Regions from separate parts of the Homo sapiens genome. Here all the other regions are linked to region 3. The links come from fine-mapping of genetic effects on gene expression. A gene starts in region 3. Each other region holds a variant in brackets. All regions are shown on one strand. Distances are between the middles of the regions. Region 1 holds the start of DST-AS1 (DST antisense RNA 1). Region 2 overlaps DST (dystonin). Region 3 holds the start of DST (dystonin). Region 4 overlaps DST (dystonin). Region 5 overlaps DST (dystonin). Region 6 overlaps DST (dystonin). Region 7 has its middle 120 kb from the start of COL21A1.

What was found. PIP is the estimated chance that this variant, and not a neighbour inherited with it, causes the effect.
Region 1: its variant is fine-mapped to the expression of DST in blood mononuclear cells (TOPMed, PIP above 0.99).
Region 2: its variant is fine-mapped to the expression of DST in whole blood (TOPMed, PIP 0.98).
Region 4: its variant is fine-mapped to the expression of DST in whole blood (TOPMed, PIP 0.98).
Region 5: its variant is fine-mapped to the expression of DST in whole blood (TOPMed, PIP above 0.99).
Region 6: its variant is fine-mapped to the expression of DST in whole blood (TOPMed, PIP 0.96).
Region 7: its variant is fine-mapped to the expression of DST in whole blood (TOPMed, PIP above 0.99).

What each region holds. Positions count from the first base shown.
Region 1 is chr6:56,841,196-56,845,716 of GRCh38, reverse strand. The region is part of intron 4 of DST (dystonin); the gene reads left to right. DST-AS1 (DST antisense RNA 1) reads right to left here and starts at 1,731. Exons shown (of 4, transcript NR_125866.1): 1 at 1,651-1,731. RefSeq lists silencers at 1,309-1,448, 1,789-1,988, 2,079-2,338 and enhancers at 1,422-2,289, 2,290-3,158. The variant A/T (reference allele first, on the strand shown) is at 2,005.
Region 2 is chr6:56,737,305-56,741,825 of GRCh38, reverse strand. All of the region lies in intron 4 of DST (dystonin), which reads left to right. Among named protein-coding and RNA genes, the nearest start is that of DST-AS1, 100 kb to the left of the region's middle. The variant C/T (reference allele first, on the strand shown) is at 1,815.
Region 3 is chr6:56,953,179-56,957,699 of GRCh38, reverse strand. It overlaps DST (dystonin), which reads left to right and starts at 2,870. Exons shown (of 104, transcript NM_001374736.1): 1 at 2,870-3,293; 2 at 3,881-3,915. The coding sequence starts at 3,113. It overlaps BEND6 (BEN domain containing 6), which reads right to left and starts at 2,593. Exons shown (of 7, transcript NM_152731.3): 1 at 2,240-2,593. RefSeq lists a silencer at 2,405-3,094 and an enhancer at 3,256-3,887.
Region 4 is chr6:56,886,281-56,890,801 of GRCh38, reverse strand. All of the region lies in intron 3 of DST (dystonin), which reads left to right. Among named protein-coding and RNA genes, the nearest start is that of DST-AS1, 45 kb to the right of the region's middle. RefSeq lists enhancers at 43-102, 3,085-3,254 and a cis regulatory region at 3,169. The variant C/T (reference allele first, on the strand shown) is at 1,913.
Region 5 is chr6:56,780,946-56,785,466 of GRCh38, reverse strand. All of the region lies in intron 4 of DST (dystonin), which reads left to right. Among named protein-coding and RNA genes, the nearest start is that of DST-AS1, 61 kb to the left of the region's middle. The variant G/A (reference allele first, on the strand shown) is at 1,993.
Region 6 is chr6:56,931,742-56,936,262 of GRCh38, reverse strand. All of the region lies in intron 2 of DST (dystonin), which reads left to right. Among named protein-coding and RNA genes, the nearest start is that of DST, 21 kb to the left of the region's middle. The variant G/A (reference allele first, on the strand shown) is at 2,620.
Region 7 is chr6:56,368,325-56,372,845 of GRCh38, reverse strand. It overlaps a transcript of COL21A1 not described here. Among named protein-coding and RNA genes, the nearest start is that of COL21A1, 120 kb to the right of the region's middle. The variant G/T (reference allele first, on the strand shown) is at 1,818.

The DNA.
Region 1 (4,521 bases), 110 kb after region 3:
CATTGTAAAGGAGACATTTTTGAGAGACCTATGTCTATACATGTGTGGTCTGTAAATGAATGACTTTCAGGGACTTAATTGCTAACCCTTTTATTTCAAGAAGGTGTCCCATATGATGCCTGGTTGTTACTTTATGAACTAATGTGCATACAAATGCATATCGAGCTGTAAGAAAACTCTAGTAACCTTAAAGACTTACTGGGACAGTGGTTCAAACTCAGATTATAAACCAGTGGTCAGGATAGAAAAAAGAGATGTGGTCTTGCTTTGTTTGGAGTAACAGAAGTAGGCCAATTGCTGAGGAGTGCTCCAGTTCTATCTCAAGTCAGTTTTTTTTTCCCACGAGTACACAATTTTTTCTTTCAAGAGGAACTCATCCCTATCTAAGCATTAATGGAAAATGGTCCATAGTTCACAACACCCAACGCTAACAAAGAAATAAAAAATCATGGAGGGCAAAAGGTCAGTATATGTGAAAGGAGGAAATAGGGAAGGAAGATTTAGACAAGACGTGAAGTTGACATAGGTCAGACTGTCAACAATCAGCTGATTTATCTAATAATAGCAGTAGCAATGAGGTATCATCCTGTCACTGTACTCCAGCCTGGATGACAGAGTGAGACCCCACCTCCTAAATAAAGTAGTAGGTGCAGCAGCTAATCCTTATATAACACCAGACATTATTCTAAACTTCATTTACTATACAACTTTATGAGTTAGGCACTACTATCGCTGTTTTACTGATGAAGAGAGTCTCAGAGAGGATAAGTAACTTGCCCATGTGACACAGTAAGGAGTGAAGATTCTATGTACAGCAGCCTGACTTCACTGTTTTTTTTTTTTTTGAGACGGAGTCTTGCTCTGTCGCCCAGGCTGGAATACGGTGGCGTGATCTCGGCTCACTGCAACCTCCACCTCCCGGGTTCAAGCAGTTCTCTGCCTCAACCTCCCGAGTAGCTGGGATTATAGGTACCCGCCACCACGCCCGGCTAAATTTTGTATTTTTAGTAGAGACGGGATTTCACCATTTTGGCCAGGCTGGTCTTGAACTCCTGACCTCGTGATCCACCCGCCTCGGCCTCCCAAAGTGCTGGGATTACAGGCGTGAGACACCGCGCCCGGCCAGTCATTACTCTTAAACACATCCATTTACATGCCTGGGTATCAGTTGGTTCCTCCAATGGACGCTTAAACTCACCCACTTTAGTATATGATACACATATATCTAATTTAAGGGAACTGTATCCATTTTACTCAGTTTAATGGATACTAGTACTATGTAGAATGAATAATAAGGAGAGAGCAGGAGGGAGGTGATAAATATGGGGCAGTTGTGAACCTATAGGCCCGCCGCGGAGCCCAGCAGCAGATGCGCCTGTGGGCTCTGGGGGGCAGAAGGGAGGGACCGCAGGCTGGTACTCGGCAGCCTCGCGGCGGCCGGGAGCTCAGGCGCAGGCGCGGCCCGGCTGTCAGGCGCTGATGCGCGGGGCCACCTGCAGAGGCCTCCTCACCCTGTCCCCGGGATGTCCCCTAGACGCGGACCCCCGTGCCCTCCTTGCCCTGTGCTGTCACAGAGTGACCTGAATCCTCCCACGCCAAAAAGATGGGTGGAAGAAAGTATTTCCAACCCTCCCCCCGATCATCCCTTACCCAGGGAGAGCCGCTGGCCCCTCAGCAGGGGGCTGCGCACAGCGGTGGAGCGATCTGCGGCTTTGTTTCTCAGGCACCTGTTGTGGATCCCAAATAGAAACGTCGCCCTTGGGGATCCGGGACCGGGCAGCCAGTGTCCGGGGGTGGGCGTGCTTGGCCGCACGGTCCACCAGGGTGGGCGGGCCTGGGGAGGGGGCCTGGGGCGCGTGGCTCTGCCTGGGAGGGAGGGGCCGAGAGGCGCCGGGGCCGGAGCTGAGCCAGCCGGGGCGCTGACCGCCGCGCTCGCCCCCTCCCTTCCGCCCTCCGCCCTCCACCCTCCACCCTCCACCCTCCACTCTCCACCCTCCACCCTCC[A/T]CCCTCCTCCCTCCCTCTCTCCCCGGCGCGGGCGAGTGTCTGCGGCGCGGCGGCCAGGAAATGCCGCAGATGCGCCGCGCAGCATCCCCGGTGAAGGCAGCGCGCCGGTCCTCCCGCACCGCTGCCGCGGCCTCGGCCCGGCCCGAAGCACGCGCCTCGTGCAGGGCCAGCAGAGCGGTCAGCGCGGCCGCAGAGGGTCCGGGCGCCCGCCGGCCCCCGCCCGCCCTCGCCGCACGCCCCGCTCCTCCGCTTGGCGTGGCGCTGCTCGTCGCCGCCCCTGGGCTCGCTGAGATTTGCCGCTGCTGAAACCCGAGAGGGACTCGGGCTCCCGGAGCCGGGCGGCCCACCATCGGCCTGCCCGGAGGCCTGGGCGTTTCCTTTGCCGGCCCTGGCGCCGGCAGCCCCCTGCGCCCCCGCTCTGCGTCTTCGGCTTCCGTGCTTCTCCCCAGCGTGCTGCTCCTTCCTCTTTTCCAGTTCCCAAGGCTGTGTCTTGCTGACTGCGATACTGTCCGGGGGTTACGAGGGGGAGAGGGGAATTTGTCAGTCATCGCTTAGATAAACTTCGGCATGGCGGGTTACCTCTCCCCTGCTGCTTACCTGTACGTGGAGGAGCAGGAGTATCTCCAGGCCTACGAGGATGTCCTGGAGAGGTACAAAGGTATGTGGTCCCTGCCCTGGGGCTGCGGAGCTTGGCACTGATCAGAGAGGCAACCGCTGCCTTTCCTTAATCAGAGCCACCACTCCTTGGGCACGAGTAAACAGGTGTCTGGACCAGTCTTGGGAATGGACCAGGTCTTTTTGCACGGGATTTAGTACCCCCAGCGCAGGGAGGATGGTGGGGTGGGCGACAGTCCGGAGACGCCCTTAGATGAGCGGTAGAGAGGGGGGAAGGGGGTTGTTTCCAAGAAGCACATTGCGTTTTCTCTCCCTTGTAAAAGCTCTTAAGCACTACGCGTAATCATAATTCTTCCTGGGAGGGTGGATACCGATTATTCTCTATGGGATTACTAAGGCATTGCTGCTGCTGCTTGGCTAGGGTATTGGTTAGCCCTGTAGAAAAGGTTCAGCATCACTAGATCATTTTCCTTAAAATGATCTTTCTTATTTGATAAAGTTTGTGACTATATACTTACTCTGATATATTGTAAAAATTATTTTATAGCGTGATGGATAAAAGACTTTAGTGAGTTTGTTGTAAATTTAAATGTAAAGAATGTATTTTGAGATTTTTTTCTGCCCATCCTTTATGTTCAGGAAATTCTATGCCAATCTGATATTTATGTTTTAGTATAATGTTTACTTGGACTTCATAGTTGAATATAATGATGAAATACAAATTGCAGCTGTCCATTTTTTAAGTGTTTTTGTGTCTGGAAATGTATTTTTAAGTGTGTGTATACCATCTTTTTATTGTGGCTCCCAAAACACTCCGAACTCAAGAGCAGCTCACAGAGGTTTAAAGTATTTATAGTGAATAGTGACCCATTTCATAGGTAGGATTCAGATGGTTTTATATCTTTTGAATATTTGCTTTGGGTTTGGTAACTCAATGTCAGTAATTTCAGTGGTATTATATGGTTAATGATGCATGTAGTTTTTCTATTAGTAGAAAGTAGAAATAAAAAAAAATTGAACTAAACAATAAAATTCCAAAGCCCCAAAAAGCCCAAATACACTCACAATTGTTTTCTCTCTTTGTAGGATATGTTTTATAACCGAAATTCTTGCAATCCTTGTAGAATTTTGTAAACAGTACAATGAGAATTCCTTTGTGCCAAGACTCTTATTGTGTATAATACTGCCACTGAGCAAGTGCAGTGATATTTTAGGCTAAAGCACATTTGTGACATTTGTGTGTGTGTGTGTGTGTATGTGGGTGGGTGGGTAATATACTCATGTTTACCTGCATCACTCCATTTTAAAGTAAGGTTTGTAATTAGTTGTTTCCAGAGCTTTGAAAAGGAGAAATATTGCAATATAGACCAACAAACCTTATTGAAGAAATACATCTGTGCTCTATACAGTCAGAAATAAAAAAATCTGAAAGTTCTAAAGTAGATACATTTTATACTTTTGAAAAAAATTATAGCTGAATGAATTTTTGTCACATGAAGTTTTACTTAAGTGACACGTGGGTGATTTCAGGTGACTGAAAACGAGTGCTTATTTGACTTTGTCTAAAAGAAGTAGGCATTGTTTAAAAGCTTGTCTTTGCCTTTGGAAATAAAAGGAAATTAAAGATCTGAAGGCCAGTGTACAACAATCAGTATTGCCCTTAAACAGATACATTTTCAAACATATTGTTCAGACGTCACTGAAAAAATGATGGGAGTTTTCCTCATTTTTACTTAAGGTTTTTAAAATGCTTAGTTCATCAATTTGTACTTGGGCTTTATAGCTGTGCTATGTTTCATTTAGTCATGGAAAGGAAAGTAAGAGTATTGGGCAGTGTATTCCATGAAAAGCTGGAGACCTGGAAAACTCATTGTTTCCCGATGTGTTTTGAAGCCAGTTATG
Region 2 (4,521 bases), 220 kb after region 3:
AGAGGAATGTTATAAAAGTTCAATTGTTTAAAATCACAGGAATGAGTTTCCCTTTTTGTTGCTGTAGCAACATTGCTCTAAATATAAATCTCAGTGTTAGACATCTCTAACTGAAATGAAATAAAGAACCATTATGAGACTTGTAATTGGAAAATTAGATGGTGTAATCTGGAATACTCCCTTTTGAAATAACTCCCTTTTGAAATAATGTGTATGGAAAGTGGTGTGATTTACAAAGTCTTCCCAGACTTAAATTATTCTCTGACTCTAGGTTGCTCTCTTGAAGAAAGTTGAAGCCTTTAGAATTCACATTAACTCTTTTCTCATTCCTGTAGCATTGTGGAAGCCTTCTCATGTTAAAGAGCATATTTTGGTATTTGAATGGGACTCATTTAAGTTGATCATGGTTTAAAAGAAGAGGTTTAGGTTGTTCCTGTTAGAAAACAGTATCAGAATTTATGAATTATGTGTGTTATTTAGTCTTTGTATCTTATGTACTTTAGTTACGGATCATAATTCCTAGATATTACCTCAGTAGTACCTACGAAATATCATGTTATTAGCAGTGCTTTTGAGCATCTAGCACAACAACAACAACAAAACCTCATTGATCAAAAGAACCTTTGTATAGTAAGTACCTCTGTACTTAGAGGTAAATTATTTGATTAAATCAGCTTTCTTAATATACTGCTTTGGTAAGTAATTAGCCAATTTATCTATAGAATCTGTTTTACCTCATGTTCCTTGAACTATAGGACCAGTTTTTATTCACTTAGAAAAGAAGAAATCTATTTTGTTAACCCTTTTTTACCCAAGAAGAAAATAGTTTATATAATACACATAATAGATTAAATTTATTTTGTGACTTATATGGAAACTCTATTCTTGAATTATAAAGATTTTTAATATATTATTAATTTTTTTTTCTTGAGGATTTAGCATCAGGGGCCTTGGTTGTTATTTAATGGGAATAATATGGATATTACCTAGGAAGTAATTTTTTTCATTTACTCTGTTTTCTTTTTGCTGGATGCTTAGAACATCACTGCTGAAAATGTGATATGAGTGCTAGACTTTGGCACAGAACTTCCATTGTTTGCAATCAGTTGTCCAAAGTTCACATCACATCACAGAGCCAGATTCCCCAGCTCCCTGTCTGTGACTGAGATGTGGTCAGCACTTCCATTTGAAAAATGACAGTATCTTGGGGATAGTGGAAGCAACCTTGTAGGGAAACATAAGAGTTGGGTCCTAACCAAGGCTCTTTCAATGTTAAATGATTAAGTCAGAGATTCTTTTTAGTGGAGAAATTGACACATGGCTGGCTTCTGTTTTGCTACCCTACTTCCTGTCCTTTAAGCCCCACCTGACTGCCCTGGATGAGGTTGGTCCTTCTCTCTTTTGTGCTTGCATACATGGTGAGTGCCATGTACTTCTCTCAACTGGTGTGCTTACCACACTGCCTTTCTGTCAGGTGTCCTCTCCAGGTCATGAGCTTCAGAAACCAAGACTAGTGCTTTCTCTGCAGCCTGGTGGTCTCAGTGTTACAGGACAGGGGTCCAGATTCAAACCCCAAGAGAGGGTTCTTGGATCTCTTGCCAGAGAGAATTCAGGGTGAGTCCACAGAATAAAGTGAAAGCAAGTTTATTAAGAAAGTAGGCCAGGTGCGGTGGCTCACGCCTGGCCTACACTTTGTAATCCCAACACTTTGGGAGGCCGAGGCGGGAGGATCACCTGAGGTCAGGAGTTTGGAACCAACCTGGCTAACATGGCGAAACCCTGTCTAAAATACAAACATTAGCCAGGTGTGTTGG[C/T]GCATGCCTGTGATCCCAGCTACTCAGGAGGCTGAGACAAGAGAATCCCTTGAACCTGGGAGGCGGAGGTTGTAGCGAGCTGAGAATAAAGAATGGCTACTCCATAGACATAGCAGCCCTGAGGGCTGCTGGTTGCTCATTTTTGTGGTTATTTCTTGATGATATGCTAAACAAGGGGTGGATTATTCATGCCTCCTCCTTGTAGACCATATAGGGTAGCTTCCTGACATTGCCATGGGATTTGTAAACTGTCATGGCGCTGGTGGGAATGTCATAGTGAGGACGACCAGAGGTCACTCTCGTTGCCATTTTGGTTTTGGTGGGTTTTAGTCAGCATCTTTACTGCAATCTGTTTTATTAGCAAGGTCTTTATGACCTGTATCTTGTGCTGACCTCCTATCTCAACCTGTGACTTAGAATGCCTTAACCATCTGGGAATGCAGCCCAGTAGGTCTCAGCTTCCTTTTACCTAGCTCCTATTCAAGATGGAGTTGCTCTAGTTCACACCCCTCTGACACCAGCACCACCATAGCACTGGACTCATTAAATGACCAGATAGATGCTAGGATGAAGAGTGAGTAAATGAGGGAAGTACAGAATCTGCACTTATCAGTGAAGAGAACTAGTAAATTGTTTCTGTTTCCTTGTTCTTGCTTTACCAACAAATTGGTAATTTAGGTTCATTTTGAACTGTCTAGGAATAGCAAGGCCGAAAGACATTTAGGACACCATTATTGCTTTAAGAGATATAGTTGTATATACTACTGTATATATGTATACAAGTAATTCTACATTGTTTTCCTCAGTTGGATTGTCCTTCCTGAAATAAAATTATTTCACACAATGGGCATCTATCTGTTGAGCGCATAGAGGCATTGCAGCATAGAGGCTTTGTGGCATCTAGTATGTGGTAGACAAAGATGAATGAGGTATAGATGATGCCCCTAAGGGGCCAATAGAGGAATTAATAAATATTTTGTGGATAATATTATTGGTTCATAATTATTAATATCATTGCTTTTGATAGCAGTTTTAAGCAAAGTGCCTGGGGGTTTTACACTTGGAATGAGGCAAATAAAATAATTTTAGGGTCAGACACAGTGGTTCACGCCTATAATCCCAGCACTCTGGGAGGCTGAAGCAGGTGGATGGCGTGAGCTTAGGTGTTCAAGACCAGCCTGGGCAACATGACGAAACCCCATCTCTGCAAAAAATGCAAAAATTCACCAAGCGTGGTGACATGCACCTGTAGTCCCAACTCCTTGGGAGGCTGAGGTGAGAGGATCATTTGAGTCCAGGGACGTGGAGGTTGCAGTAAGCCAAGATTGTGCCACTGTAGTCCAGCCTGGGCAACAGAGCGAGACTGTCTCAAACAAAACAAAGATAAAACCAGGCCAGACTCGGTGTCTCACGCCTGTAATCCCAGCACTTTGGGAGGCTGAGGCGGGCCGATCACGAGGTCAGGAGATTGAGACCATCCTGGCTAACACGGTGAAACCCCATCTGTACTAAAAATACAAAAAATTAGCCAAGCGTGGTGGCACATGCCTGTAGTCCCAGCTACTCGGGAGGCTGAGGCAGGAGAATCGCTTGCACCTGGGAGGCGGAGGTTGTAGTGAGCTGAGATCATGCCGTTGCACTCCAGCCTGGACAGCAGAGCAAGATTTTGTCTCAAAAAAAAATTTTAGTATAAATTCTGAGCATTTATATTCAGAATTAGCAAACTACTTCTACTGTCTGGGAATGCTTTCTGCACCCCTTTATCTAATTTTTAAATAAGAAGTAGATTAGAAGTTGGGGGCACTGAAAAGGTATTATAGGCAGAATCAAAAGATGGGCTGTATATAAGTACCTTTTTTTTCTCCCTGACAGTGATAGGAAATGGAAGGTGTTTCAATGAGGTACTTTGGAGAAGAAATGCTTATGAAATAAAAAGTACGTTATATGTTCCTCCCCCCCATTCTTATTGGCATTAAAGTAGGAGAACTCTAAATGATAATACTATCACTGAGTAGTCTTACAACAAGTTGAATTTGAACAGACCATTGTATCACTTTACTAAAATTTCCTTATTTCCTTTTCTCGAACATTTGTGTTTTTTCAGAATTTTTATTTTCCTATTGTAAGCACTCTGATTTATATTCTCATAGTTACATTTTGTACATAATATGATTATAACTTCAGAATAGATTTTAGAAGTAGATTTGCTGGGAAAGGTCGTAGGTATTTTTAGGGCTTTTTATGTATATTAACAAATTGTTGTACAGCAGTGTTGTCCAGTAGAGCTTTGTTTTAGAGCAGTGCTGTCTGACAGAAACTTCTGTGATGATGGGATTATTCTATATCAAATTATTCTAAAGTAGCGCTGTCCAGTAGAGCTTTGTTCTAGAGCAGTGCTGTCTGATAGGAATTTCCGTGATGATTAGAATGTTCTATTTCTCTGCTTTTCAATATGTTAGCCATTAGCTACATGTGACTGTCAAGCACTTAAATTGTGACTAGTGCAACAAAGAAACTGAATTGTTAATTGTATTTTGCTTTAATTAACTTTGGTTTAAACTTAAATAGGTGTATGTGACTAGTGGCTACAGTACTGAACAACGCAGGTCTAGAAAGTTTAAATTAAATTACATTTTCATCAGCAATATGTGTGTCTGTTTCTTGTGTCCTTTTCAACATGAAATTTTTTAAAAAATAAAATCTTGGC
Region 3 (4,521 bases):
CATTTTTTTGTATGAAAGATTTGGGCCATGGCTCTCCCCCTCCATCCCTATCCTCAAACTTAACAATTTTTTTTGTGTGTGACTTTTATACAATGTCAATTATTCTTTTTTTAAAGCAAAAACCTACCAGGAAGGCAAGGTATAATTTCTACTAAATTAACTTCCAAAAAGCACTGCTTGGCTGATTTAGTATTTATTGAATTCCGCAATGCATTAGGCACCACATAAACACACAGACAGAAGCAATTAATACTATGTATGCTGTTATTTGGAAAAAATGATAAATTAGCAACAAACAAATCAGAAAATAACAATGGAACTAAATACTAAATTCTTTCAAGGATTTGGTTTGTTTATTATTAGTATCTTTAAGACAACTGATGGAAAGAACAGAAATGAATGCATCTAAAAAGAAATATCTATAATCCTATTGCATGGCAGTTAAGCATTTGCCTGCCAAGAGAGATAAATGATGTTCTTGTGTGCACTTGAAACTTATAAATGGCTGCAGCAAGACGCAGGATGATAACAGTTGTGCTAAAGTCATAGCTCAGAAAACCATAATAGCTATTTAGTTGCTTTTTGTTGTTAAAAAAATATAGCGTTTGGGGCAATTTGAATACTATTCTGTGTGTCTTTGACATGTTTCTGTTCAAGGATACGTAGGCTATTTCAGCTCACTTACAAATTTCAGTCAATGAGAAGCATAAAGATGACCTTCCAAAATTCTGTTAGTTATTTCCCCCAATGTCTGCACACGGTTAGTTCAGTTTTGTTGTTTAAAATTACTCCACCATGCCATTGTTGAGTCAATGCGGTGGAGAATTCTTCCTTTCCTGATGTGCCACACATTGCAAACTCTCAGGATTTTCTTCAATAACCTCTGCATAATTGTTGAATAGTTTCTCACTGCAGTGGGCTGCGGTATCAAGAAACCTTTAGCCATATGCACATGATGTAGTGCTACCTGTCACCCACTCTGAGTGCTAGAGACCCATGAAGCCTATCCTGGAATTCAGTGCAGCCTACATGCTGCCATTCAAAATTCCCACCTTATGCAGTGTCTCCAAGCAAGGGCCCTTCTGAGTTCAATCCAAAACAACTGAATGAATGAGATGCAACATGTCAACAATTCGAATGTTTATTTTGTTTAAGGAAACCAGCTGTAAACAAAACGTATCTGTTGTTTTCCATGCTTATGAATCTGGCACTAAGAGACTGCATTAACCAATGCCTTTTTAGGTTTAATACTTACACACGGTAATATGTTACTGGCTTTAAGGACATCAATGATTAAGCTTTCATGCAGAGCTGTACGGTTTTGTATAGTTGGAAAACAACACTGATTTTGAGATCACTACAAGCAAATAAAACTTTTATTCCTCCCAATTATTTACCTGCTTTTCAAATTTTTATAAATTTTTATGACACAATTTCTTCAGTCTATTAAATATTCCAAAAAAGAGGCTAATACAGTTGTTATAAGAAACTCCGCAAATGCAGTCAAGTGTTACCTTGTCACTATAATTAAAGTTTTCTTATGCGAGTAAATGAAACAAACAATCCAGCCCCACACAGGGAAAGCCAGCATTGCCTTGGGGGCAGCAGAACGCGGCACAGCACCGCCCGCCAAGGCCGCAAGATGCCGCAGAATGACTGCTGCAGCAGCCGCTTCCTGGCCAGGTGGCCGTGGCCGTCCGCAGAAAGGCACACTGCAGCGCTCTCGCTATACCTTCCGTGCTGGCATTGCATCAGTGTTAAATCCCCTGGCCACCAACTGCCATATACTTTTTGCTGGTTATGAAGAAACGTGGGGAGGGGACAAAGGGGAGACAGAGTGTGCCTGCAAGTGTGAGAGATCACTATTGCCTCACACTCCCTAAAAAATTTCTCCCCCAAATGTTTATAAGCCAAGTACCAACTTACTTCATCTGCCAGGTCCCTAAATCTGAAATCGCCTTGCCCTTCAAATGCACTAAATGAGTCAGGGTTTTAGGGCAAACCCAGGGATACAAGAAGATCGAAAGTGCCCAATTCTTAGCTGCGAGATAAGCACCAAGTTTGGGGTGGAAGAGTTCACCTCTGCCGACCAGAGCGTACTACCCCGGAGCGCTCCTAGTTTAGAGAGGCTTGGAGAGGAGTGGGCCTCCCGTTCCTGGAGTATCCCAATTCCCAGGGAAGGCCCTTCCCGGCGCTCGCGCTTCAGAGTGCGAGGAAACCCCCACAAGCAATAGCTCACCCGGCTGCATTCTTCAAAGCCCCAACCTCGGGGCGGGGCGCAGGGAGGTGGGAGGTGGAGGGTAGCACCGCCGGGAGGCTCCTGTCAGCGCCTCTCGGTTTTCCCCCTGGCTCCTTGGCGCCCCCTGACGACGGGCTCCGCAGCAATTTGGCCGAGGGAGGCTGGATAGGCGGAAGCTCCGGGTGTCCGGGAAGCTAGAGGCACCCGGCCAATGCACCCGCGGACGGCGCGGACTGGCGGGCGGCCCCGCGGGAGGGCGCTGGGCTCTCAGGCCCGGGTGCAGCCCGCGGACGCCGCCGAAACCGCCGCAGCCATGTCCGCGCGCCCGCGCTGCCGCAGCCTGGCCGTGATGTCATCAGCCGAGCCCCCGCCGCGGCGCCCCATTCCCGCCCCCCGCAGGCTGCCGCGGCTGCAGCCTGAGCGCCGCGTCCCCGCCCCGACCCACGTGCGCCCGGCTTCTGGGATGCTGAGGTCGGCGGCGGCCGCAGGACGATGCGCGGGGCCCGGGCGGCCGCGGCGGCGGCGCTGCTCCTCCCCACTCGCCGCGTCCCCGGCGGGGCTGCGCCCGGGGGCTGCGCACGGACGGGGGCGGGGGCGCCTGGGGAGGGAGGGGAGAGGATCCCAGCCGCCGAGTCGCAGCCTCGTCGCTGTCTGCTGAGTCATGGCAAGCGCTCCCCGCAGCCCTGGATCACTCGCGTAGCGCGGCTGGCGCGGGGTGCGCAGCCATTGGGCTGGGCGCGGGGCCGCGAGCGCCAGGCATGACGCGCTGAGCCGCGCTCACCCGTGCCCGCCGTCCCGGCGTGCGCCCAGCGCGGGTGCCTGTGCCGCCGCCCTCCAGCCCCGCCGTCGAGTCGCCCTCGCCTCGCCCGCACCATGATCGCCGCGGCTTTCCTCGTCTTGCTGAGACCCTACAGCATCCAATGTGCCCTCTTCCTCTTGTTGCTTCTGCTGGGCACCATCGCCACCATCGTCTTCTTCTGCTGCTGGCACCGCAAGCTCCAGAAAGGGAGGCATCCGATGAAATCGGTCTTCTCGGGTCGTTCAAGAAGCCGAGGTAAGACACGCCGCGACGGGTTTCTGCGGGCTACCAGGAACAATTAAGCCGATTTGGAGAGTGAAGCGCGGCTCGCTCCCTTCTCCTCGGCTGCCCCTAGCCCCATCATTGCCCACTCCCCAGGCTGAGTGCGTTTCTTTAACGCCCCTTGCCCTTTTTGCCGTCACCTCCGCCCTCCAGTCTCCCAGGTTTGAATAACCACGGCGATGCCGAGGGCAGGGAGGGGAGGAAAGAACTCAAATTTTTAGTCAGTTTGCTAAAGCCTTAAGGGTAATTTGAGCGTAGTCCGGGGCTGCGCCAGCCTCGCCTTCACGCATCCTTCGCTGGAGCGTAGGGGTAAGAAAGTAAGGCATGGAAACTTCGGGGCTCCCCAACTCCCCCAGAACTTTCATGCAAACTTCTCGCGGAGAAATCACGTAGAGACCGATGGCCCCAGGACTCCTCCTCCCTCCCCCAGGATGTCCCACCGAATTCCAGGAGTCTGCGATGTGCTTTCCCAACCCTGGTCTCCCAGGTAAGTCATGAGTCACTCGGTAGGTGAAGAACAAGGAGTTAAATGAAGTCTCATTTATCTCTTTTCTCCCCAGATGCTGTTTTGAGATCGCACCACTTTCGTTCTGAGGTAATTTATTTAGCGCGCACGCTCAAGGTCAGAAGAAGTTCTCTTTCCTGAGTACCAATATTAATTATATGCGTGTTAAGAAACCAGTAGGACACTGAATGACGAACATGCTGTCCCCTAGCCGAAAGTGGCATGTTTCCTTTTAAGTGATTTCATATTAGTGCCCAGCGAACGGTTTTAGCAAATTTCTTGTGTAGTGGAGCTGTTGTACAAGAGGGGAAAAGGCAAACCCTAAAAGTGCTGCAGACCTTAAAAAACTTAGCCACAGGGTGGATGTCACTTGAGTTTACAGTTTATATTTTGCTGGTGGAAGTGTTTTCTGGGTGCTGTCAGTTGACTCTGGTTGTTCACTTGGATAAACGAAGAGGTTAGTGCAGAACAATTTGATCCATATGCATTTCATTTTCGATTTTCAAGTTTACATTTCTGTTTTCTCCTAAAGCTCTCCATGTTTTATTGGGGACCATCTGATGATTTTTGCAAAGCGATGATGGTAGTGTGTGCTTAAATGCTTGTGCTAGTCTCCACTCTCAAAACGTGGACCATCCCTCTAGGGCAAGTAACTCCTAATCACTGCACCCAGGAACCAGCTCCACTGAAGAAACA
Region 4 (4,521 bases), 67 kb after region 3:
AGAAGTAACTGCAAAGGAGATGAGTCAGAAAGCGTGACTGTGCAGTTTTAGCTACTTTCAGTCAGACCATCCTCTTGAAGTGTTATGTGAAATGCAAATACTTTAGCATCCTTAGCTGTTTTAACCTATTTACTTATTCTGGATTTGTAAGCTATATGCAAATATACCTATAAGAATTTGTAATGGGGATCACTAATAAAAACTTAATAATATCTAGATTTTTTATTTTACTCCTTGTTTTAGATGTTTCTAAAAGTGGATAAACTAAAAATTTATCCTGATTTCCTCTCAGTACATATGTATTTGGATTTATACTGTATATTAAGATATGTCACTAGGATGCTTAGGAATTTTTTTTACCATCTTGAAACAGAAAAGATAATTAGATCCAGATCTCCATTTATTCCTTAGTATTTTCACATTACAAAGCATTTTGTTTTGTTTCTGAATCCCAGGATTTTTAAACATCATCATCATCATCATAAGAACTCTTGCATTACTGCATGTTTACCTCATTGACAATACATGGGCATTGTTCTCTGCACTCTTCTCTGTTTTTCTCTCATTTTATCTTCTCAGCGATTCTCTGGAGTCGGTGCTCACTTTCCAGGGAGGAAATGTGTCAAGGTCATACAGCTGGTAGATCATGGAGTTAACATTTAAACCTAGGCACTCTTGGCTTGAGCCGTTTTTGAGTAAGGAATGGAGAACTCCCCATGATTACAATTCTAGTGCTAGACATTTATCCTCATCAGCCTTCCTGAAGTATTTTAATTACTTTGAGTCTCATTTTTCTAACTGCATAGATGGTAGATATGGATGAAATCTTTGTGTTTTTAAACTATTACATCAATTAAAACCTATCTTTAAAATGGTATTGAAAACCATAGGTAAACCTCAAACATCATTTTTGCCATCATTTTATTGGCAAAATTGGCCCCCTCTTTCTGTGGCAGGGCACCTAGGAGGTAGCAAGAAGTAAGCAAGAGTAATTTTGCCCTACTGCCTGCTCACATGAACCTGTTAATGTACAACTTTCAGACCCAAAAAGTATTTATGTGTTTGAGATTGGGGGTGGGTATGGGGAAATAACAGTTTTAGAGCATCAGGAAATAATCAAACATACTGACTCTACTCCTGTTACATTTCACTGATTCCAGTTTTTTGCACACTGCAACAGCATTGCCTGCATTTCCTGGTGACTTAGAATCTTTGAGACTTTCTCACTGAGCTGAAAAAGTATAATTAAAAATTGCTAGTGTTCCCAGGTTATTGCCAAAGCTGCAGCTTGTTCTCCCTGCTGGCAAAATCTTAGCCTCTGAGCACCTGTTTTCTTACTTTTGGGCTCCCACCACCATCAAGCAATGGGATTTTTGAACCTGACAGTTTTGACTGAGGAGTTGGAGGACATATGGGCCTAACACAGGTGATTGGGTGATCCTCTTTTCTGAAATGGTAAGCACAAAGGAAGAAGCAGGTTTGGATTGAGGATTGGAAAGAAAATTTTCTGATTTGGATATGTGAAGTTTGAAATAACTATTAGATATTCTTGTGTCTGGATTTCATGGAAGATGTGAGAATTATTTGTACATAGATGTTATTAAATCTATAAGACTGGGTGGGATGACTCCGAAAATGAATTTGATAGAGAAGAGAAGACACTTGAGGTCTGAGCCTTGGAGTCTGCCAGTGATGAGAGTTTGGGAAGAGGACTGAGGATCGCTTATAACTTCCAACTCTTCACTCAGAAATATAAATGCCTTAAGCAGACATGGGTCTAGGTAGCTCTTGACTTTGATTTAAGGCTATTCATTTTAGGCCAAGAAAAGGCCACTCAGGTAGAGACTAGAGAAAATAGCAGGAAATGAAGTCCCAGATGTACTCATTAGATTTTCCCTTCCCTGAACTCTCC[C/T]CAACTAAACCACCACTTCCTTGACCTCACCCTTCTTTTCCTTCTGTTGTGGGTTTCTGTTTTTCAGTCTTGGGGAAATTTTCTGTTTTTCTGATTACAGCTTAGGTTTTTGTAAGGCTGCAGTATATTTTGGAACATTATATAGCTTTAATTTGTAATAATTAAATTAACCAGATTTTGTCATATTTGTAGTTGGGAACTTTTTGGAGTGTAGGAAAGACTTAAGCATATATCCTTGATCTCTTGAAAATATAGCAGGGTGTTTCTGTGTTCCTTTCCTGCTTAGATTATTAAAATGGTCTTCCTTTTCCCTTTCCTTTTCAAATATGTAGGACCAGGCAGCTCTATGTGCATAACCTTAGGATATTTCCCCTTTTGTGGAAGGCATAACTGTACAACTCATACCTTACTTTGGCTAATTAACTAGCAAATCCAAAGCTCTTAGAGGAAACATTTGTTTCCTTTTCCCCTTTGGAATTCTGGAGAATGAATTGATTAATAAAGTCAAATTTCTTTTGCTAATTATCTGAAAAGAATTTTTTTGAATGACACCCATTCAATGTACTGAGTCTTTGCTACATATTGCTGTACCTCCCTTTTTAGGTTCATAATTAATAGAATTTTATAAAAGATTTCATTTATGGCCAGGTGTGGTGGTTCACGTCTGTAATCCCAGCACACTGGGAGGCTGAGGCGGGCGGATCACGAGGTCAAGAGATTGAGACCATCCCAGCCAACATGGTGAAACCCGTCTCTACTAAAAATACAAAACTTAGCTGGGCATGGTGGCACGTGCCTGTAGTCTCAGCTACTTGGGAGGCTGAGGCAGGAGAATCGCTTGAACCCGGGAGGCAGAGGTTGCAGTGAGCCGAGATCGCACTGCTGCACTCCAGCCTGGTAACAGAGCGAGACTCCATCTCAAAAAAAAAAAAAAAAGATTTCATTTATTATAGGCTTGCTATAATAAATTACAGTAAGGTATTGGAATAATTAATGCACAGGGGCACAAGAATGTGCAAGGTAGGTAGACTGTATTGAATGAACAGTTTAGTCTCTATAAACAACTCATGAAACCAAGATTAACTTGGTAAAGGGATTCATGTGTTCTGCTTGGAGAAAAATAAGCATGTGTTCATAACTCATGATTCTTTTTTGAGGTCAGTATTTTGACTGAAGCAAGACCTCTTGCCATTCTTTCTATGTCTTTCTTGTATGTGATGACAACCTGTTGTCTTAAATAAAAAAAACCTTAAATTCTTTAATCTCCAAACCAAGGAAACTTAAAGAAAACATTTAGATAGTCACTTACACTTTGAAAATTTTCATGGACAACTATGGATCAAAGGACTGAAAAGAAAGCCCCTTCAAAGATGGTCTAGTTTATTATTTCACCTCTAACCAAAGAAATCCTTAAATTGCTCTGGTAAGATGGGTATAGCTTCCTTTATTTTAAAGGACACAGCCATAGCTTACCTCAGAATTCTGTTTGGAATTTAACAGCCATCTCTGCCTGAAACAACTCCTTGATCTTTGCCCTAAATCCCATGCCTTACAATTTAAGACCATTTCTTATTGTGGTATCCTCTGTGGAGAGGATGAAGCATAGCCACCTGCTACCGTGTCACTCTCAGTCTTTGTGAATCAAAGAATGTTAAAGCTTGAGGGGATCTTAGAGCTCATCTGACTTAACAGTTTTTGTAATGCTAGATTCCTCTCTGCTTCAGTACTTTTAGTGATACAATCTCCTACCATTAAATAGTGCTAATTAGCAGCAAGTTAATTGTACTTGAAAATCAATAAATTGTTTCTTTTCTAGGCTCATGGTTCTATCTCTCTGAACTTTTCTCCTAAGTCTAATTCTTAATTTTTCCAAACATCATTTTTGTTTTACTCTTCTAAACCACCTCCAAGTGAGTGATAAGGGTCTGATTTCTCTCAATATTTTCTGTCTCTCTCTCTTTATTTATTTATTTTAGTTCTGAGATGATGATTGTGTTTCAAAAAAATCAATCTATGGAAATTGAACAAAATTTAGTTTGTGCTTTGGGAGATGAGAATTCAGTTCTAGAAATGACAGTAATGTTTCAGGAATTTTTTTTTTTTTTTTTTTTTTGAGACTGAGTTTCACTCTCATTGCCTAGGCTGGAGTGCAATGGCACGATCTCCGGCTCACCGCAAACTCCACCTCCTGGGTTCAAGCAATTCTCCTGCCTCAGCCTCCCGAGCAGCTGGGATTACAGGCATGTGCCACCACACCCAGCTAATTTTGTATTTTTAGTAGAGACGGGGTTTCTCCATGTTGGTCAGGGTGGTCTCGAACTCCTAACCTCAGGTGATCTGCCCGCCTCGGCCTCCCAAAATGCTGGGATTACAGGCGTGAGCCACCATGCCTGGCTGTTTCAGGAAAATTATAGCTTTGGAGTAGTACTTCGTAGTTAAGTAGCACTTCATACTTTCAAAGACTGCTCATATTCATTATCTCCTGAACAAACACCCTGTGTGTTGGGTATGGCATATATTATTGATCCAGTTTGACAAAACTAAACCTCAGTGAGTAGGTGATTGGCTTAAGTTCATAAGGTCAGTTAGAAGCAGACCTCTCTCATCCT
Region 5 (4,521 bases), 170 kb after region 3:
AGTCTGAGATCAAACTGCAAGGCGGCAGCGAGGCTGGCGGAGGGGCGCCTGCCATTGCCCAGGCTTGCTTAGGTAAACAAAGCAGCCTGGAAGATCGAACTGGGTGGAGCCCACCACAGCTCAAGGAGGCCTGCCTGCCTCTGTAGGCTCCACCTCTGGGGGCAGGGCACAGACAAAAAGACAGCAGTAACCTCTGCAGACTTAAATGTCCCTGTCTGACAGCTTTGAGGAGAGCAGTGGTTCTCCCAGCACTCAGCTGGAGATCTGATAATGGGCAGACTGCCTCCTCAGGTGGGTCCCCGAGCAGCCTAACTGGGAGGCACCCCCCAGTAGGGGCAGACTGACACCTCGCACGGCCGGGTACTCCTCTGAGACAAAACTTCCAGAGGAACGATCAGACAGCAGCATTCGCGGATCACGAAAATCCGCGGTTCTGCAGACACTGCCGCTGATACCCAGGCAAACAGGGTCTGGAGTGGACCTCTAGCAAATTCCAACAGACCTGCAGCTGAGGGTCCTGTCTGTTAGAAGGAAAACTAACAAACAGAAAGGACATCCACACCAAAAACCCATCTGTACATCACCATCATCAAAGACCAAAAGCGGATAAAACCATAAAGATGGGGAAAAAAACAGAGCAGAAAAACTGGAAACTCTAAAAAGCAGAGCGCCTCTCCTCCTCCAAAGGAACGCAGTTCCTCACCAGCAACGGAACAAAGCTGGATGGAGAATGACTTTGACGAGTTGAGAGAAGAAGGCTTCAGACGATCAAACTACTCCGAGCTACAGGAGGAAATTCAAACCAAAGGCAAAGAAGTTGAAAACTCTGAAAAAACTTTAGACGAATATATAACTACAATAACCAATACAGAGAAGTGCTTAAAGGAGCTGATGGAGCTGAAAGCCAAGGCTCGAGAACTACGTGAAGAATGCAGAAGCCTCAGGAGCTGATGCGATCAACTGGAAGAAAGGGTATCAGCGATGGAAGATTAAATGAATGAAATGAAGCAAGAAGGGAAGTTTAGAGAAAAAAGAATAAAAAGAAATGAACAAAGCCTCCAAGAAATATGGGACTATGTGAAAAGACCAAATCTGCGTCTGATCAGTGTACCTGAAAGTGACGGGGAGAATGGAACCAAGTTGGAAAACACTCTGCAGGATATTATCCAGGAGAACTTCCCCAATCTAGCAAGGCAGGCCAACATTCAGATTCAGGAAATACAGAGAACGCCACAAAGATACTCCTTGAGAGGAGTAACTCCAAGACACGTAATTGTCACATTCACCAAAGTTGAAATGAAGGAAAAAATGTTAAGGAGAACCAGAGAGAAAGGTCAAGTTACCCACAAAGGGAAGCTCATCAGACTAACAGCAGATCTCTCGGCAGAAACTCTACAAGCCAGAAGAGAGTGGGGGCCAATATTCAACATTCTTAAAGAAAAGAATTTTCAACCCAGAATTTCATATCCAGCCAAACTAAGCTTCATAAGTGAAGGAGAAATAAAATCCTTTACAGACAAGCAAATGCTGAGAGATTTTGTCACCACCAGGCCTGCCCTAAAAGAGCGCCTGAAGGAAGCACTAAACATGGAAAGGCACAACAGGTACCAGCCGCTGCAAAATCAAGCCAAAATGTAAAGACCATTGAGACTAGGAAGAAACTGCATCAACTAACGAGCAAAATAACCAGCTAACATCATAATGACAGGATCAGGTTCACACATAACAATATTAACTTTAAATGTAAATGGACTAAATGCTCCAATTAAAAGACACAGACTGGCAAATTGGATCAAGAGTCAAGACCCATCAGTGTGCTGTATTCAGGAAACCCATCTCACGTGCAGAGACACACATAGGCTCAAAATAAAAGGATGGAGGAAGATCTACCAAGCAAATGGAAAACAAAAAAAGGCAGGGGCTGCAATCCTAGTCTCTGGTAAAACAGACTTTAAACCAACAAAGATCAAAAGAGACAAAGAAGGCCATTAC[G/A]TAATGGTAAAGGGATCAATTCAACAAGAAGAGCTAACTATCCTAAATATATATGCACCCAATACAGGAGCACCCAGATTCATAAAGCAAGTCCTGAGTGACCTACAAGGAGACTTAGACTCCCACACAATAATAATGGGAGACTTTAACACCCCACTGTCAACATTAGACAGATCAATGAGACAGAAAGTTAACAAGGATACCCAGGAATTGGACTCAGCTCTGCACCAAGCAGACGTAATAGACATCTACAGAACTCTCCACCCCAAATCAACAGAATATACATTTTTTTCAGCACCACACCACACCTATTCCAAAACTGACCACATAGTTGGAAGTAAAGCTCTCCTCAGCAAATGTAAAAGAACAGAAATTATAACAAACTGTCTCTCAGACCACAGTGCAATCAAACTAGAACTCAGGATTAAGAAACTCACTCAAAACCGCTCAACTGCATGGAAACTGAACAACCTGCTCCTGAATGACTACTGGGTACCTAACGAAATGAAGGCAGTAATAAAGATGTTCTTTGAAACCAACGAGAACAAAGTCACAACATACCAGAATCTCTGGGACACATTCAAAGCAGTGTGTAGAGGGAAATTTATAGCACTAAATGCCCACAAGAGAAAGCAGGAAAGATCCAAAATTGATACCCTAACATCACAATTAAAAGAACTAGAGAAGCAAGAGCAAACACATTCAAAAGCTAACAGAAGGCAAGAAATAACGAAAATCAGAGCAGAACTGAAGGAAATAGAGACACAAAAAACCCTTCAAAAAATTAATGAATCCAGGAGCTGGTTTTTTGAAAGGATCAACAAAATTGATAGACCGCTAGCAAGACTAATAAAGAAAAAAAGACAGAAGAATCAAATAGATGCAATAAAAAATGATAAAGGGGATATCACCACCAATCCCACAGAAATACAAACTACCATCAGAGAATACTACAAACACCTCTATGCAAATAAACTAGAAAATCTAGAAGAAATGGATAAATTCCTCAACACATGCACTCTCCCAAGACTAAACCAGGAAGAAGTTGAATCTCTGAATAGACCAATAACAGGCTCTGAAATTGTGGCAATAATCAATAGCTTACCAACCAAAAAGAGTCCAGGACCAGATGGATTCACAGCCGAATTCTACCAGAGGTACAAGGAGGAGCTGGTACCATTCCTTCTGAAACTAGTCCAATCAATAGAAAAAGAGGGAATCCTCCCTCACTCATTTTGTGAGGCCAGCATCATCCTGATCCCAAAGCCGGGCAGAGACACAACCAAAAAAGAGAATTTTAGACCAATATCCTTGATGAACATTGATGCAAAAATCCTCAATAAAATACTGGCAAACCGAATCCAGCAGCACATCGAAAAGCTTATCCACCATGATCAAGTGGGTTTCATCCCTGGGATGCAAGGCTGGTTCAATATACGCAAATCAATAAATGTAATGCAGCATATAAACAGAACCAAAGACAAAAACCACATGATTATCTCAATAGATGCAGAAAAGGCCTTTGACAAAATTCAACAACTCTTCATGCTAAAAACTGTCAATAAATTAGGTATTGATGGGATGTATCTCAAAATAATAAGAGCTATCTATGACAGACCCACAGCCAATATCATACTGAATGGGCAAAAACTGGAAGCATTCCCTTTGAAAACTGGCACAAGACAGGGATGCCCTCTCTCACCACTCCTATTCAACATAGTGTTGAAAGTTCTGGCCAGGGCAATTAGGCAGGAAAAGGAAATAAAGGGTATTCAATTAGGAAAGGAGGAAGTCAAATTGTCCCTGTTTGCAGACGACATGATTGTATATCTAGAAAACCCCATTGTCTCAGCCTAAAATCTCCTTAAGCTGATAAGCAACTTCAGCAAAGTCTCAGGATACAAAATCAATGTACAAAAATCACAAGCATTCTTGTACACCAATAACAGACAAACAGAGAGCCAAATCATGAGTGAACTCCCATTCACAGTTGCTTCCAAGAGAATAAAATACTTAGGAATCCAACTTACAAGGGACGTGAAGGACCTCTTCAAGGAGAACTACAAACCACTGCTCAATGAAATAAAAGAGGATACAAACGAATGGAAGAACATTCCATGCTCATGGGTAGGAAGAATCAATATCTTGAAAATGGCCATACTGCCCAAGGTAGTTTATAGATTCAATGCCATCCCCATCAAGCTACCAATGACTTTCTTCACAGAATTGGAAAAAACTACTTTAAAGTTCATATGGAATCAAAAAGCCCGCATCACCAAGTCAATCCTAAGCCGAAAGAACAAAGCTGGAGGCATCACGCTACCTGACTTCAAACAATACTACAAGGCTACAGTAACCAAAACAGCATGGTACTGGTACCAAAACAGAGATATAGATCAATGGACAGAACAGAGCCCTCAGAAATAACACCACATATCTACAACTATCTGATCTTTGACAAACCTGAGAAAAACAAGCAATGGGGAAAGGATTCCCTATTTAATAAATGGTGCTGGGAAAACTGGCAAC
Region 6 (4,521 bases), 21 kb after region 3:
TTCAATGAGAGACATGCTTATTCTACTTTATTGTAAATGGGAACACGAACTGACTTTAACTAGTCTGTCCTCCATCCACTTCAAGCTTGTTACTTTTCTCTTTTTATTTATTTACCCTTTAGAAAATCTTGTAGGATTTTGACAGTTGGTAAGATGATGCTGGTAGAGATGTGTATTGCTACATATAACTCATGAAATACTGAAGATTCCATTTATTTTACCATTATACAAATTTTTTAGGAATCAAACATCAATAGATTATTCATTTTGGAAAAGTTTCTTTTCTTATTTTTTTGGTCCAATCTCATTATTCTTTTTGTTTTTCTTTTTTCTCTTTTTGAGACAGAGTCTCGTTCTGTCACCAGGCTGGAGTGCAGTGGTGTGATCTCGGCTCACTGCAACCTCTGCCTCCCGGGTTCAAGCAATTCTCCTGCCTCAGCCTCCTGAGTAGCTGGGACTACAGGCACGCACCACCATGCCCAGCTAATTTTTGTATTTTAGTAGAGACGGGTTTTCACCATGTTGGCCAGGATGGTCTCGATCTCTTGACCTCGTGATCCGCCCACTTTGGCCTCCCAAAGTGCTGGGATTACAGGTGTGAGCTACCGTGCCCGGCAATCTCATTATTCTTTATATTTTCTGCATTTGTCTCCAACTTCTGTACATAAAATAGATTGAGGTTAAAGAACTACTTGCAGATTTTAAAGAAAACAATATGTATCACTTCATATTTACTGATGAGTTTACAAAGAGTAGAAATTTCACATTAAGAAGTAATTAAGCAGTAGACCATTAACAAGTTTTAAATAACTAACTGACCAACTTTGAAGAATCATTAAAAGAACATTAAATAGTATATTCCTGCTACTGCCCACTCTGCAGTGAGCTGCACGCAGCAGGCAGCAGGCAGTTGCGAGCATTTCAGACTGATCTAGAGTGTGACTGCCTCTTGTTTTAAAAACGGTTGTGGGGCATCCCAAAGTGAATCCCAAATACATTCTTAATTGTTTAGACTCTCTTGAAATATTTGGATTACCTAGCTGTATGTCTGAATCATCAGCTGTTCTGGGTGGGAGATAAAATTGGGAAATTTTGGCTGGCTACTGCTATATTACAATTTCTCTAGAAACTTCAGTTAATAATGGACTCAAGCATGCCTTGAGCTGTTCGCCGAGAAACTATGGCAACGGGCCTTTTAATTAAAGCTGAAGTAGTGTGTGTAGCTTAGGAAAACGGAGATACTGCCAATTGATAGGGTGACAGTATGGGAATCATCCATGAAGCTAACAAGAAATTTCTTTTTAGATATATTTAGTTAACTCTTTTTTACCTAAGTTGCTCAAAGAAACACTAGTAAACTCTTTTAGTGGACATCAATATTTGGCTTTGGAATATGTTACAATATTTTTTAAAGAATATATAGCTTCCTAATTTTTTTTAAGAATAATATTAAAATTATTTTGTGTTTTCTGAGTATATGTTAAACTGAGAGTTGGAAGTTATTGGAAGGGTCAGCCTAGAGGCATCCTTAATGTCAGAGGGCAGCCAATCTGAGATAGTTCACAAAACCAATGATCTCTCCATTTTGGTGATGGAGACATTAGTGTGCCTTAATTCTCTCTCTCCATGTCATATTCTCTCTCTCTCTCTCCCCTCCTTCTCTCTCTCTCACGATATATATATATATATATATATATATATAATATAATATATAATATGTATATTTTATATGTATATAAAAGTGCACTAGTGGGCTGATGATTGACAAATTAGTAAACTGTCCCCCTCTTGAGCTAACGCATTTCCAGGCAGTGTGCTGGAATTTATAAGCCCAGACCATAACAAAAGTGATTTATTATTGTTAGCTTTCCAAATTAAAAAAATAAAAACTAAGTAGAAAAGCAACAGTTGCCATTTTTTGAGGGTCAAGTATGTGTTATGCTAACAACCCCCAGTGATGGGCAGATTCTATTAGCCCTTTGGTAGGGGCTGAGGAGGGGGAGAATTTGAGTTTAAGTCTGTTGTTTTAGCATCCCATCTTAAAAAGTGTCCCTGTTTGAGGATAAATTGCAGTCACCTGGTGAAGGCAATCGCTAGAAAGATGAGTAGCATCTAATTAAATAAAATGTTCTACTTAGGAGGCTGAGATGGGAAGATTTTTAGAAGCCAGGAGTTTGTGACCAGCCTGAGCAGCATGGTGAGATCCCCATCTCTAAAAAATAAAAAATATATATATGTATATAAAATAAAACAAAATGTAATAGTGACAAATGTAAAAGCCCTTAAGCCAGAGACAATGTAGGAATTGGCTCTTACAAAAGCCTGTTATCTGGTTTCCTTGGCTTTGGGTTTCAGTTCACTTTTTATGATACTGTTGGCAGAGTAAGCTATCTGAAATAAGATCTGATCTTCCACTCCTTTTGCTTAATGGCTTTTCTTTGCTTAATGGCTTCCCGTTGCTTACAGGATAAGTACACCCTTTCTTGGTATCAGCTCCCACATACCTCTAATGCACACCTTAAACTCAAACAAGACCCAGCTGCTTGGTTCCCTACCCCATTCTGTTTTCATGCCATTGCTCATGCTGGAACCCCTCTATTCTACTTTTTTGTTGTTGTT[G/A]CAAACTCCCATTTCTACTTAAAAATGAGGATTAAACATCATTTTCTTCCTTTCTTTATCTCACATTCTTCCCTTAGTCTTCCTGGACATTCTCCCCTCTTGTTATTGAACTGAACTAACTGGGGCCTGCTCACCTGGCACGGTAAGGCCAAACATCCACACTGAGGTTTGCAGTGGAAGAAAGGAGGGCATTTATTTGCAGGGTGCCAAGCAAGGAGAATAGTGCAGCTTATGCTGAAAGACCTGATCTCCTCAATGGCTTGCAAGTCGAGTTCTTAAAGGCATGGTTAAGTTTTAGGAAAGCAGAAGTTACAGACAAAATCATAAATCAATATGCAGAGGTTACACATTGGTTTGGCCTACAAAGGGTGGGATATCTTGAAGTGGGGGCAGGTCATAGGTAGATTAAAAGATTTTCTGTTTTGCAATTGGTTAAGGAAGGGAAGCTTTGTTTAAGATCTGGGTCAGCAGAAAAGATTGTTAGCTCTGGTTTCTGGTGTGACTTCTTTCAGGACCATCAGGAAGAAATTTACAGCAAAGAGAAGTGGTCAGAGATCAGTCCTCAGTTCCTCCTATCTGAGGTCTACATGCTGTTCGGTGGGGGTCTGGGTTTCTGAAAAACAACTCAGGAACATATGTTAAGATTTTATCTTTACTTTCTATAGAGAACCAAACATTGTATTATTTTAACTTCCTGGGAGATTGTTTTAAGCTACTATTACCTTCTTGCTTATCTAGTTGCTCATTTATTTCTCAGGGAGACCTAGGTACCTGGAAATTCCCTTGAAGGAACTCAGGATTTTCTATTATTTCTATGCTTGGGACCCACAGACCCCTAAGAAGTGTCCCTGCTCCATCTCACTCTGGGACTGGATGAGGGCACCAGATATGGGGATTTACACACCAAGGCAGGTGGTATGTAATTTTTATCTTGTATCCATAGCCTTGTGTGGCATCTGGCATGGAATAGGCACTTACTATTTGTTGAATATTTGATGTTGGCTAAATATTTGATGTATATAGGAATGGAATTAAGTGAGTAAACTAGAGTTACCAGGCATATTTGAGAAAATACAGAGTAGTTGAACTTCAGTTCAGCTGTTTTCCCTCCTCCTTCTCTCCCACCCTTCTCTTGCCTCCCGGCTGCCTGTTCCTCCTATGCCTGTTCTGTGGCTTTCCAGAATACCCTGGTCAAGGAATTGCTCTTCCCTTAAATGCCCCTCTATTAGTCCACTTCCATTCTGCTGATAAAGACAAACTTGAGACTAGGTTTGGAAGACTTTTTCTGGAAGAAAAAGAGGTTTAATTGGATTTAAAGTTCACATGGCTGGGGAGGCCTCAGAATCATGGCGGGAAGCAAAAGGCACTTCTTACATGTTGGTGGCAAGAGAAAATGAGAGAGAAGCAAAAGCAGAAACCCCCCATAAAACCATCAGATCTCCTGAAGCTTATTTACTACCACGAGAACAGTCTGGGGGAAACCACCCCCATGATTCAAATTATCTCCCACTGGATCCTTCCCACAACACATGGGAATTATGGGAGTACAATTCAAGATGAGATTCGGGTGGGGACACAGAGCCAAACCATATCATTCAGCCCCTGGCCCCTCCTAATCTCATGTCCTCACGTTTCAAAACCAATCCTGTCCTCACATTTCAAAACCAATCATGCCTTCCCAGCAGTCCCCCAAAGTCTTAACTCATTTCAGCATTAACCCGAAAGTCCAAAGTCTCATCTGAGACAAGGCAAATCTCTTCTGCCTATGAGCCTGTAGAATCAAAAGCAAGCTAGTTACTTCTTAGATACAATGGGGTTACAGGTATTGGGTAAATACAGCAGTTCCAAATGGGAGGAATTGGCCAAAACAAAGTGGTTACAAAGGCCCATGCAAGTCCAAAA
Region 7 (4,521 bases), 580 kb after region 3:
TTCCAGATGCTACAGAACAAAAGAATGACCAATACCATTACAACAGCCACCTTCCCTATCATGGGAGAACTGGACTGCAGAATTAAGCCAACATAAAGGAGGGAGAAAAACCAAGAGATGGAGAGACAGACAAAGCCCAGATGACATTATTGAAGCCTCTGAATCTAGATGTTCCTGAAGCTTTTTTCCCCCCACTCCAGCCTTACATAAGCTGATAAATTCCCTTTTTGGCTTTAGTTACATACTCCCTTATGAGTTGAGCGTCTGTCACTTGTAAACAAGAAATTCCTGCCTTATATGGTGCTGTGTTCATTATTAGTGTAGAAATCATATTCTTGCTTCTTTATTGGGGCATTTTTACAGAGTTCTCCCTGCCAATACTTTCTGAATACTCTTGATGCGTTGACACATGGACAAGCCTGAGTGAGGAGGAAGAGAACCACCATTCCTGTCAGCCAGCCTGGTAGGTTGGCCAGTCTCTCCTTGTCCTGTGTAAATGCTTTCTCAGATCAAATTATCCAGATTTTCTCTAATTTTGCTCCTGTCTCCTGTATTTCAAGGAATACTGTTCTCAGCTAATGAGAGCATGAAATCCATGCTCTATGTCCAGTTGCAGGGTCAAAGTGTCTGCTTTGACTGTCTCTAAGATTTGTGGATTTGTACAGGAATCCATTTGTAAACATTTGATTAGAAGCCGGCTCCTTCCTCTCCAGGAGTTGGCATATCTCTGGCCCTGTTGAATTAGTGTTCTGGTGTAGGACACACCTCAAGGATTTATTCTCTGGGGGAATAAACATCTTGGAGCTGTCCCCTCATTTTCTGGGGCACAATACTTGTTGCCTTGTCCCCCTTCACTTTGCTAAGCACCTCTGGCCTCCCTGTTTCTTGGGTCCAACCCAGTCACAAGGGGACTCAGCCCAGCTCTGTGGAGCAGGGACTTGGGTGTGGATTCTGGAAACTCCTTTCTGCTTGTCCGATCATCTTCACTTCTCTGATGGCCCAGGGAGCTGAGGCCTTTAGGGGTTTAGCCCAGGAGAAATAGATGAAAGGTCAAGGAATTCAAATAACATATGAATGGAAAGTCTAAGGTCTTCTTGGCACCCAAAATGGTACCCACTTCTCCTGAATGGCTCAGACACTCCTGTGGATATAGTGTTCTTTCATCTGATGTCAATGAGAGGCTGAACTGCAGATTCTGCATGTCTCTGGCACTTCTTGGATTTATGAGGATGGGCCCCTCTACTCAAACTGCCCTTTCCTGGGGAACCCTGAGAAGTTCCAGTCTACCCAGGAGCTGGTGAACAGGCAGAAGAGGAAAGGCCTGGGATGGTCCACGTGAATGGGGGGAACTTGGGTTGAAGGCCGATATCTCTTCACCTTGGTTGCCCCTGAGGTGGGGCTGGGCACCTGACTCTCCTGGCATGCCCTTAAGCTGATAAAGCATTGGTCATCAGAATGCAGCAGATTGGGCTGTGATTCCTTGTCATTTAGATGAGCTGAAGCCAAACAACTCATAAGATGTCTCTTATCTTACCCTATCCCAGTGTACAAATGTAGTCCCTAAATCCTCTTTCTGCATTAGGATTTTCAGTGAATCTACTGAATAAATAGCAGATGCTGAAGAACTGAGTGACGATACATTTTTAACTTTTCAAACAGCAACTTGATGGCATTTAACTTCTCTTGAAGCTTCCAGACTCTGGAATATATCACACTTATTGGCTGAATTTCCCTTTGAACCTGGAGGGTTTTCAGCAGACATGAGTAACTGGTGAGCAGAAGTTGTGGTCAGCATGTGGTGCAGATCCTAGAGGAAG[G/T]GAAAGCAGGTTTTTAAGATGATCATTCAATTCTTCAAGGCATTTCCTTTTTCCATAAAAAGATTATATATTAACCTGATTAGAAATATGTAAATAAGCTGCCTCCTTCCTTTTATTTTCATCTGTTGCTCTGCAAAATCCATTCTTTTTCTGGGAATGGAAGGAACTGATGTAATTGTTCTGTGTGGAGGACAATGAAGAGCTATTGGATCTTTGCCAAGTACATTTCCTGCCAGGGCCTGTTCCTGCACTCAGTTTAATTATGAGCAATTGTTTGGGCTGTGATGTGAAGAAATATTAGAGAATGGAAAAAAAGAAGACCAGAGTTCAGAATATTATGCTACAACTGATTCATGTTTTGGCAAGAACTCTTAACTAGATTTTATGCTTTCGCCTTGTGATGGTATCATAGGGAGCAGCTTTGCCATATAAGCACATAAAGCCCAATTGTACGGTTTATTTTGAAAAGGTCCAAGTAAAAGCATTTGAAAAATGCAGGAATAACACCAGCTATAGGATAGAGTTCTGTGTTAATCATGTGCAGTGCCCTCACAGAGGGACCGCAGTTATTTTAAACTGCATGTTAACACCACCTGTATTTAGCTGGTGTGTCAAATTTTATTGCTTAGCTTTTCATATATTTGACAAATCTCACATTTTACAGAGAGGCTCTGATTAATTCTCACGGTGTGTGCTCAGAGAGGGACGTGATGCCGGTGGAAGCTGAACTCTGAGGAAGGCCGGGAACAGAGACAGGTTTTTCCAGATCGGGATCTGAATCAGGCAATCCAGGAGCCTAGTGTCCTCAAGCGGCCACTGCTGGGAACGTGAATGTAGGCGAGGACCTGGAGATCAGACTCCATGTGGGCCGTTGACCTTTTCTGTTTTTTTGATTAATAAAGGAAAAGACAAATACAGAAAAGCATAACAAGAAATTTAAAGTAGCCTAAAATCTCACCACCTAGAGATAACGCCTATATGGCCTCAAGTCTTTTTCTAGCTTATGTTTACACGTAAGCATATATTTTTGAATAATTACAACCATTCAACATAAACTGTTTTGTATGATACTTTTCCAATTAAAATATATCATGAGCATTTCCCTTGCTTTTAATTCAAATGAAAGAAGTTTTAGTAGCTGAGTGTGATTACCTTTAATAGCTGTACATTCACTCTGAATATCAATTGGTTTTGTATAAATATTTACTGTGGCTGTTTTAATTAGTTTCTGTTTGAATATCATTGAGGTTGAGCAATTTTTTCGTATTTATGGCCATTTATGTGATTCTTCTTTGGCGAATTGGCTATTTACATCCTTTGCCCATATTTCTATGATGGAGACATTGAATTAATTCTAATTGATTTAAAAGATCTCTCTCTGTTGAACACATTAACTCCTTTTATCATATCTTATAAAAAAAGTTTTCACAATTGTTTCCTTTCTTATCTTGTTCAGGATTCTTTTAAGATGGGAAGATTTACATTCTTTTGCAGTCACATACATCAGTTTTTTTTCTTTATTTTTTTTCTACCTTTATGTCCAGAAAAGCCTCTGGGTCTCAACATCAGACACTTTTTTTATCAATATTTTGATTCTTTCATGGACACAATTTTACATAACACCCTCTCACATCTTAGATTTCTTTTGCTGTGTGATATGTAGGATGGTTTTTGATGGGTCCTGCGTTTATCTAGTATTCATTTTGTTTTGAATTGACTTATGGCTATTCTTACCCTGTTATCAGACTGCTTGAACTATTATAACTTTATAGTATGCCTTCATTATCTTCTAGGGTAAGTCCTTCCACTTTTTACTAGTATTTCCATCTTTAAAAAGCCACCAATGATTAAAATAACACTTTTACTTAAGTGTTTTGAATTGAATTTTGTCTTTTGGCTATAGTTAGGAAAGATGACCAAAACAATTGGTTCTCGATATTCAGCTAATAGTAGATACTCTGGATTCATACTTAGTATTTATTTGCATTGATTTCTAAGCAATCTGTACTCCACCTAGCTTGTTTCCAAAGATGGCAGAAAATACCATGCTGCCCATTCTACAGATAGAGTCTCAGCAGTGAGCATATTACATTTTTAATGGAGAAATTATGTGGACATTTTTCTACTGAAATAGTCACAGTTAAATAAAATGAATGGTATACCAGCATCCAGCATATATTTGAAGACTGCTGTAGAAGATTAAAAATTAGAGACCATTGAAAATTTCTCTTCCTCAGCACCACTGAGAATAGGAACAGGAAATGTCCCAAGCGACACTTGCTCACAGAGAATTAATGATAGGAAGTGACCTTGAAGCTTCGTTCCCAAGAAATATAAACAAACTTTCCCTGGCAGCCAATGGCAGATAACTCTGAAACAAAAGGAATGTAAGTGAATTTTAAGGGGGGTGAGGAGAAGAGGTTGTGGAGTAAGAACCTGGTTCCAACCATGACCAACTGGAATTTTAATCAAATAACAAAGTGGTCACTGCCCTGGATAGCCACTGTTGTGCTCTTAACCGAGATTTTCTTCTAACTGTAGACAAATCAAGCCATTTCACATTGAATTTTTTCCTCTGCAATGCATGAAGCTGTGTAATCATCCACCTAAAATTATCTTATGAAAGAAGTGTCATTTCAATTCTTTTTGATTTGTCCACATCTCTGAAGAACACACTTTTGATGTGTATAGGTGCAGAGATTTA